2 linked regions of the Homo sapiens genome follow. The protein of the gene in region 1 interacts with the protein of each later gene in a biochemical or structural test. Each region holds a gene or a part of one and is shown on either strand. Other genes may lie near its edges.

Evidence for each region.
Region 2: the proteins of NDRG1 (region 1) and GSK3B form a complex in vitro, tested with the Homo sapiens proteins (one study listed by BioGRID).

Annotation. Positions count from the first base shown.
Region 1 is NC_000008.11:133,241,602-133,245,419, reverse strand, and holds part of NDRG1 (protein NDRG1), read left to right. Parts: intron 1-1,029; coding exon 1,030-1,065; intron 1,066-3,345; coding exon 3,346-3,397; intron 3,398-3,818. UniProt on the Homo sapiens protein: Stress-responsive protein involved in hormone responses, cell growth, and differentiation. Acts as a tumor suppressor in many cell types. Necessary but not sufficient for p53/TP53-mediated caspase activation and apoptosis.
Region 2 is NC_000003.12:120,000,359-120,004,176, forward strand, and holds part of GSK3B (glycogen synthase kinase-3 beta), read right to left. Parts: intron 1,882-3,818; coding exon 1,688-1,881; intron 1-1,687. UniProt on the Homo sapiens protein: Constitutively active protein kinase that acts as a negative regulator in the hormonal control of glucose homeostasis, Wnt signaling and regulation of transcription factors and microtubules, by phosphorylating and inactivating glycogen synthase (GYS1 or GYS2), EIF2B, CTNNB1/beta-catenin, APC, AXIN1, DPYSL2/CRMP2, JUN, NFATC1/NFATC, MAPT/TAU and MACF1.

The sequences.
Region 1 (3,818 bases):
TTAACTTGATTTTACCTGCAAAGACCCTATTTCCAAGTATAGCCACAGTGATAGGTACTGGGGTTAGGACTTCAGTATGTCTATTTTGGGGACACAATTCAACCACAACCTACAGCAAAGGGTAGGTGGCCTGACTGAGGTGGGGTGGCCGATTTGATGGTAGATCCAGAAACAGAACTCACTTAGGCCTGATTCTGGAGACTTCCACAGCGTCAGTCTAATGTGCTGAGTGCCCCGCCTGGAGGAAAAATTCGGGCATCCTGCTCCCTGCGTGCTGGTTGAGCTGAGGGCTGCCCCAGGTCAGTGTCGCTTTGTGGCTAGTGTTGGGGGTCCAGACTTGAGGCGCCCTGGGCTGTAGGATGCCCACAGCCTCACCACTCCCATGAACTCCTCCAGCCCCGTTTCACCCCAGGCCACCCTCCCCGCAGCCTCCCCCTGCTCCCTTGCCGTCAGCGCTGCCCATTTCCAGGCTGGCTGCACAGTCTCACAGCCTGCAATGGCCTCTTGCGGTTCGGTGATTTCACAGGGACTTTGAACGTCCACCATTTAGGAAGGGTACTGGTCAGCTGAATCCGGCCTGAAGACCCAAATTCAACCACTTCCTTTTGAGGGAAACTTTCAAGGGAATATATGAAGAGGGTCTTGTTTATCAAACCCTTTCGGGTCAGAGAGATCCTGGCCTGGAACCTTGCGAGTCCCTCAAGCTCTTCCTGGCCCAGTTTCTGCCTGTAAAATGGGACAGCTGTACCTTCCATGGTTCTTGGGGAATGGAGTGAAATTATCTGTAGGGCCTAGCATAGTGCCTGGCACGTAGCAAGCTGCAAGTGATGGTTGCCACGGAGACACCAGCAGCCTTGCCTGGTGGGGCTGGAGTGTTCCCTACCCACGGTCCACCCTGTTCCTCCTTTGTAAGGCAGGACAAGGCAGGGCAGGGCAGCGGGCGGATGGGCATCCTTTCGGAAAAAATTCATAGAGCGCAGAGGGCCTTGGCTGTGGTGTTTGGCACTAACGAGCTTCCCTCTCTCCTAGATGGCGGACTGTGGCGGCCTCCCGCAGATCTCCCAGGTGAGTGCCATGTTGGCTTTTGCATTATACAGCTGTCGCTTCCCCCTGGGTGGAGTGCATGTGCCTCTGTGACACCTGTTCCCTCATTACCTTGCTGTGACATCGGATGACAGTTTGTGGACTGTTGGGAAAAGGTGCTATATAGGAGGACTCTGATTCCCTAGGAACCAACCCCTGTGGAGTAGGTGATACTGCGGTTCACAGAGGTTGGGGGATTTGCCAAGTAGACACACCTTGGTCATCATGGGTCAGAATCTGGGTATGTCTGCCCCAAAGACCACGGGCTTCTGCTGGAGTGAAGGGCCGCAAGGAGCTCCAGCCCAGAGCAGAGGGACATGGAGGAGATTAAGCCAAATTGTGTGTGTGTGCATGCATGTTTCTGTGTGTGCATGTGTACACGTCTGTGTGTGTGCATGTGTACACATGTCTGTGTGCATGTGTAAATGTGTGTGCACATGTACAAATAAACACATTGATCAACGTAATGTGTTTGCTACGTAACTGATCCCTTCAATTTCCCCTCCTATAAAGAATCTCACCAACCTAACAAGTAAACTTTTAATTTGTTGTCTTATAATTTTATATCCTGACAGTTTTGTGTTCCATCTTAAAATGAAATAGAGTTTTTTGTCATCTTTTTTATCCAAAACCTGCCCTGCCTCCTTTCTTCCTCCTTTTTTTCTTTCTCTACTTAAAATGAGAACAGATGTAACCCTGGTCATAATTAAAAGAATTTTCAGAGCTTCAGAGGAGTGCAACGAGCACAGGCTTCGAGGACACCAGCACAGGGGGGAGCAATTCCTGTGTGACACTGTCGTCCTCATGCCGTTGCAGGTTGGGTGTATGTTTACACAGGGTTTTCCCATCCTTGATTAAATTAGGTCCTTGCAATAGTCCTCAGAGGTGGGAAGAGCAAGCATTTTATCCCAGTGTCACAGAAGAGGAAACTGAGGCCAAAAGTTGAGAGAGATTGCCCATGATTACTGGAGCTAAAATTGGGCCCAAGTGTTCTCATTCCCAAGCGTGTATTCTTGGTTCTCTCCACCATCTCGAACACAGGCGTCCCTGTTCCCTGCAGCCCTGACCTGCTTCTCTTGTCTCTTTCTTCCACTGTCACACAAATTCCAGAGGGCAATTTGAGCATAGCCGCTCTTTTAAATGTCATTTGGCTCTTTGTGGAATCCTGGCAGGAGTTAGTGGAGAGCAGGGAGGGGGGTCAGCCCAGCCTCTACCAGTGCCCTCTCACTGCCTCAGGAGAATAGGACCCAGGGCACTGGATAGAACAGTTGGGATTAACTGAAGAACAGATACGCCTTGCACGTATGCCCTTGATATTTGAGCATTCACCTCCAAGTTTACATTAAATGAACTGAGAGAACTGGTAGAACTGGATGTGGTCTCAGCATTCCATACGCATTTCACTTAAAGTAGCCCAGTTAGTTGTTAATTAATTGGTTTGTTTACCCATCCAACGAACCATCCAACCATCATCCATTCATTCTTCTTCATATCCTTTCTTCCTTTTATTTGTCCTTCTTTTGTTCATATTTCTCTTTTTTTCTTCCTTTTGTCCATCAATTCTTTTTTTAATCCATCTTTCCTTCCTTCCTTCCTTCTCTTCCTTTCTTTCTTTTTTCCTTCCTTCTTTCCATCCATCCTTTTCTTTCCACCCATCCATCTATCCATCATCCCTTCTTTCAGCCAGCCTGCTATTGAGGCTGACAGTGATTTGCCTCAAGAACAAGTGTTTTAGGTTTGGAGAGCCCTGGGTTAATGTACAGGACCCACCACTTACTTGTTGTGGGACCCTGAGTGGATTTACCTGTCCAAATCTGTTCAGCTATGAAATGTATCTAAGGTAGCACTGACCTCGTGAGGGGTTGTCAGGAGTAAATGAATGAACGCAGCAAAGCCCCTTGCATTGGGAGTGGCTCATGATGCCGATGCAGTTATGTTCCACTTGCTGGGTTAGACATGTCCCTTTGTGGATGGTAATCTCCTCAGAAACACACAGAAATAGCTGTGATACTCTGCCCTGTATTACAGGTGAGGAAACTGGCTCAGACAGGTCATGTAACTTGTCCAAGTTCCACAGCTGTGGGGTGAATTTCCCATCATTGTCCCATACTCTTACTTTTGTGTTTTGTCCTGTCAACACGTGATGGCTTTTGTCTTGAGCCAAACTCTCAAATGAAGGTGACCACAGGCACAGCCCCCCATGGCCTCGGGTGATCTGGCTCCCCAGCAACTGACTGCATTTTCTCTCCTTGTCTCTCGCAGCCGGCCAAGCTCGCTGAGGCCTTCAAGTACTTCGTGCAGGGCATGGGATACAGTGAGTATGGCATTCCCCGTGTGCAGTGGGTCGGGGCATGTGTCGGAATTGGAAGTGCTCTGTCCTGAGCCAGGTTTGGATGAGCAATTCTGTGTCCCCCTGGCCAGCTTCAGCTTTCTGGGAGGAAACAGTTAGGTGTGTGGAGGGCATGTGGCAGCCTGGAGGATCTAGCCTCTCATTTATCAGTGAGGCTCATTTTTCCTCCTTTGTTGAATAGAAGTTGTTTCACACCAGGGATTTTGGGGGGTTTAGATGAGGACTGTCCCTTTAAGCACCAAGACAATGACCAACAGTGAAACAATAACATTTTTAAAAATTTTGATCACAAGTTTTAAGAGACCACTAGCTACAGTGATGATGAAGATGGTGTCGATGATGATGAAAGATTACTAACACATTATTTTATCTCACTGAACCATCA
Region 2 (3,818 bases), on another chromosome or scaffold:
ATCCAGTGGGCATTTGACAACATGAGACTAGTACTTGGGGGAGAGGTGAGAACTGAAAACAAAAACAACTGAATTTTTAAAAATTCTTTAGAATGTTCCAGATATTTACAGCAGATGGACACTAGAATGTGGTATAACTAGTGTTATACCAGAACAGTGATCACTTCTTCTTGTTATATCCCTTCATGTTTACCATAGATCTTGGTACATTGGAGGCTCCCACTAAAATGTTGCAGAGGTTGGAAGAGTAGTAAAGGGAGCAACGCTGCATAGTGACAGAGGCTTAATTACACCCGGTGTCTTCTGACTCTCTCTGCTATACCACAACATAGAGATGACATCTGAGCTTCCATGCATAGGCTCCCCTAATGAGGTACAGAAAATGAAAATACATGACGAGAACTGAATTTTGGGATTGCTAGTGTCTAAAGGCAGAAGGACAAGAAAAAAAAGGGAAGATAGCAAAAAAAAAAAAAAAAAGTTACGAGAAAAATGGATAGTGTTGTAATATGGTTTGGATGTTTATCCCTTTCCAAACCTCATGTTGAAATGTAATCTCCTTTTTTTTTTTTTTTTTTTTTTTTGAGACAGAGTCTCACTCTGTCCCCCAAGCTGGAGTGCAGTGGCGCGATCTCGGCTCACTACAAGCTCTGCCTCCCGGGTTCACGCCATTCTCCTACTTCAGCCTCCCAAGTAGCTGGGACTACAAGCGCCCGCCACCATACCCGGCTAATTTTTTGTATTTTTAGTAGAGACGGGGTAGAGCCTGGTGGGAGGTATTGGATCAAGGGGGTCAACCACTCATGAATGGGGTTAGCACCATCCCCTTGTTGATGAGTGAGTTCCCACTCAGTTAGTTCACAGGAGATCTGGTTATTTAAGAGAGTCTGGGGACGGGCATGGTGGCTCACGCCTGTAATCCCAGCACTTTGGGAGGCTGAGACAGGCGACTTGCCTGAGCTCAGGAGATTGAGACTAGCTTGGACAACATGGCAAAACCCCGTTTCTACAAAATAGTAATAACAATAATAATAATAATAAAGTCTGGATCTCCCCCTTCATGCTCTCGCTCAGCTCTTGCCATGTGATGCACCTACTCGCCCTTCACCTTCTGCCCATGATTAGAAGTTTCCTGAGACAATTACTAGAAGCAGATGTCTGCACCACACTTCCTGTACAGTTTGCAGAATTGTGAGCCAATTAAACCTCTTTTCTTTATAAATTACTCAATATCAGGTATTCCTTTATAGAGATGCAAAAACAGACTAACACAAGTTGCAACATGGATTAAAAAAATTTTTTGAAAAAAGGAAGCATAGTCAAATACATAAAATGCTTATATGCTACAGGCAGTGTTCCTCTGGTCTACATCAACACAGTACAACGGTGAGGACAGGTCACTTTTTATAGTATAAATTAAGAAATTTTAACTTACCTTTCACAGGATTAAAAAATACATATATTACATATGTCATTTGTAATGACTACAAAAGTAATACTGCAATCTTCAGTGAATGTTATCTCTACAAAATACATGACTAGAAATAAAATCACTACAATGGTTGAGCTGAACAAAAATGCGCACAATAGAAGAAATTTGAAGCAAAAAGAAGCAACTAAAAAAATAATCATTTATGGTATATGTATTACGACAGCAACAAAATATATGAAATACTGGACATTTTACCTTAAATCTCTTGTCCTGCAATACTTTCTTGATGGCGACCAGTTCTCCTGAATCACAAAGTTTGGCTTGATATACCACACCAAATGATCCATTTCCAATCACTTTAGTGTCTGTATAGCTGACTTCTTGTGGCCTGTCTGGACCCTGCCCAGGAGTTGCCACCACTGTTGTCACCTTGCTGCCGTCCTTGTCTCCTAAAGGAAGAAAGGAAATTTTTTTTTCACGAGAACTGTAAGGAATTAAATAGAGAAAACTGCCAAAATATACAAGGTAAACTATATTCTTTATTTTTTATTTTATTTTTTTTTTTGAGATGGAGTCTCACTCTTGTCACCCAGGCTGTTGTGCAGTCACACAATCTCGGCTCACTGCAACCTCCGTCTGCCGGGTTCAATCAATTCTCCTGCCTCAGCCTCCCGAGTAGCTAGGATTACAGGCACCTGCCACCACGTCTGGCTAATTTTTGTATTTCTAGCAGAGACGCGGTTTCACCATGTTGGCCAGGCTGGTCTTGAACTCCTGACCTCAGGTGATCCGCCCTCCTTGGCCTCCAAAGTGCTGGGATTACAGGCATCAGCCACCACGCCTGGTCAAAGTAAACTATATTCTTTACTACAAATTATTTTTAGTTTATTACATGTAATTACTTCAATTACTTGTTTCAATTATAAGTCATTTTTTAAACTCCCATGTATTCAGTCATTCTATAGACCAGACACAATGCTTAGTTTCAACCCCATGAGGTAGACAGTACTGTTCCCATATTATAGGTAATAGGAAGAATGTTAAATTTGCCCATGGTCAAATAGCAAAAGGTGAACCCATAAGAGTCTGACCTTATCCATCCAATTCTAAAAGGCCTTAGGGCTTTCTTCAAGACCTTATTTTACTTGAAAATAAAATATGTGCAAATAAAAATGTTTAAAACTTCTCTCTTCAGATCCTTCTGCATTTAGGAAAGTAAGGCTTTGAGTGTTTGCTTCCCTGAATCTTCTTTTTAGCAAAGTAGAAGACCTCTCAGAGAAAGCTCAGGTGGAGAAAAGAATGTTAATTTGGGGTTAACAGATATAAAAATTTAAATAATCCAACCCATTCTGAACTGAGGCCCAATTATATAAGCATATCACTGGCTCCAGGGTCTCTATTCACTCACAGACCTCTTCTTTCCTTTTTTGCCTTCTCTCACCCCAGTAGCAATCCAACGGCTCTCTTCAATTCAGGCACAAGAGCCACCTCCTACTTCACTAGGGATAGTCCACAGTCACCATCTTGTTTTCTGAATTCTTAATCGATTCTGTGTATTATGCTACCTAGTATCTGATCTAAAAGAGCTTTACATTGTTCTTTTAGTGACTTCAACGTACACAAAAATGTCTACTGTTTCTTCTCTCTTCCCTGACAAATCTAAAACCAATTCTCAGTACAATATAAGTCCTTAGGCTCACTTATTGGACTTTTATTTTTTCCTGTTATTCTTCCATTACAATTTCCTTTCTAAAATACTAACTGAATTCCAATTAACCTAATAAAAGAAAAGTAATATAATATTTATGAGTATTTTTCTCTGTGAAATATAAATTGCTAGATAAATGAATATCCAAATGCACTAGTGGAATATTATAACCAATATTTATATCCATTTAAATTCACAGAAGTATTAATATACACAAAAGCCAGTGAATGTCTGTGACCAATTAACACTTTCATTTGTAAGATGGCATTCATGGTCGCTTCCAAGATGGCTGAATAGGAACAGTTCTGGTCTACAACTCCCAGGAAGATCTTTGCAGAACACAGGTGATTTCTGCATTTCCAACTTAGGTACCTGGTTCATCTCACTGGGACTGGTTGGACAGCAGGTGCAGCCCATGGAGGGCGAGCCGAAGCAGGGTGGGGCATTGCCTCACCTGGGAAGTGCAAAGGGTTGGGGGATTTCCCTTTCCTACCCAAGGGAAGGCATGAGTGGCTGTACCTGGAGGAGCGATACACTCCTGCCCAAATACTGCACTTTCCCAATGCTCTTCGCAACAGGCAGACCAGAAGATCCCCTCCCATGCCTGACTCGGCGGGTCCCACGCCCACACAGCCTTGTTCGCTGCCAGCACAGCAGTCTGAGATCAACCTAAGATGT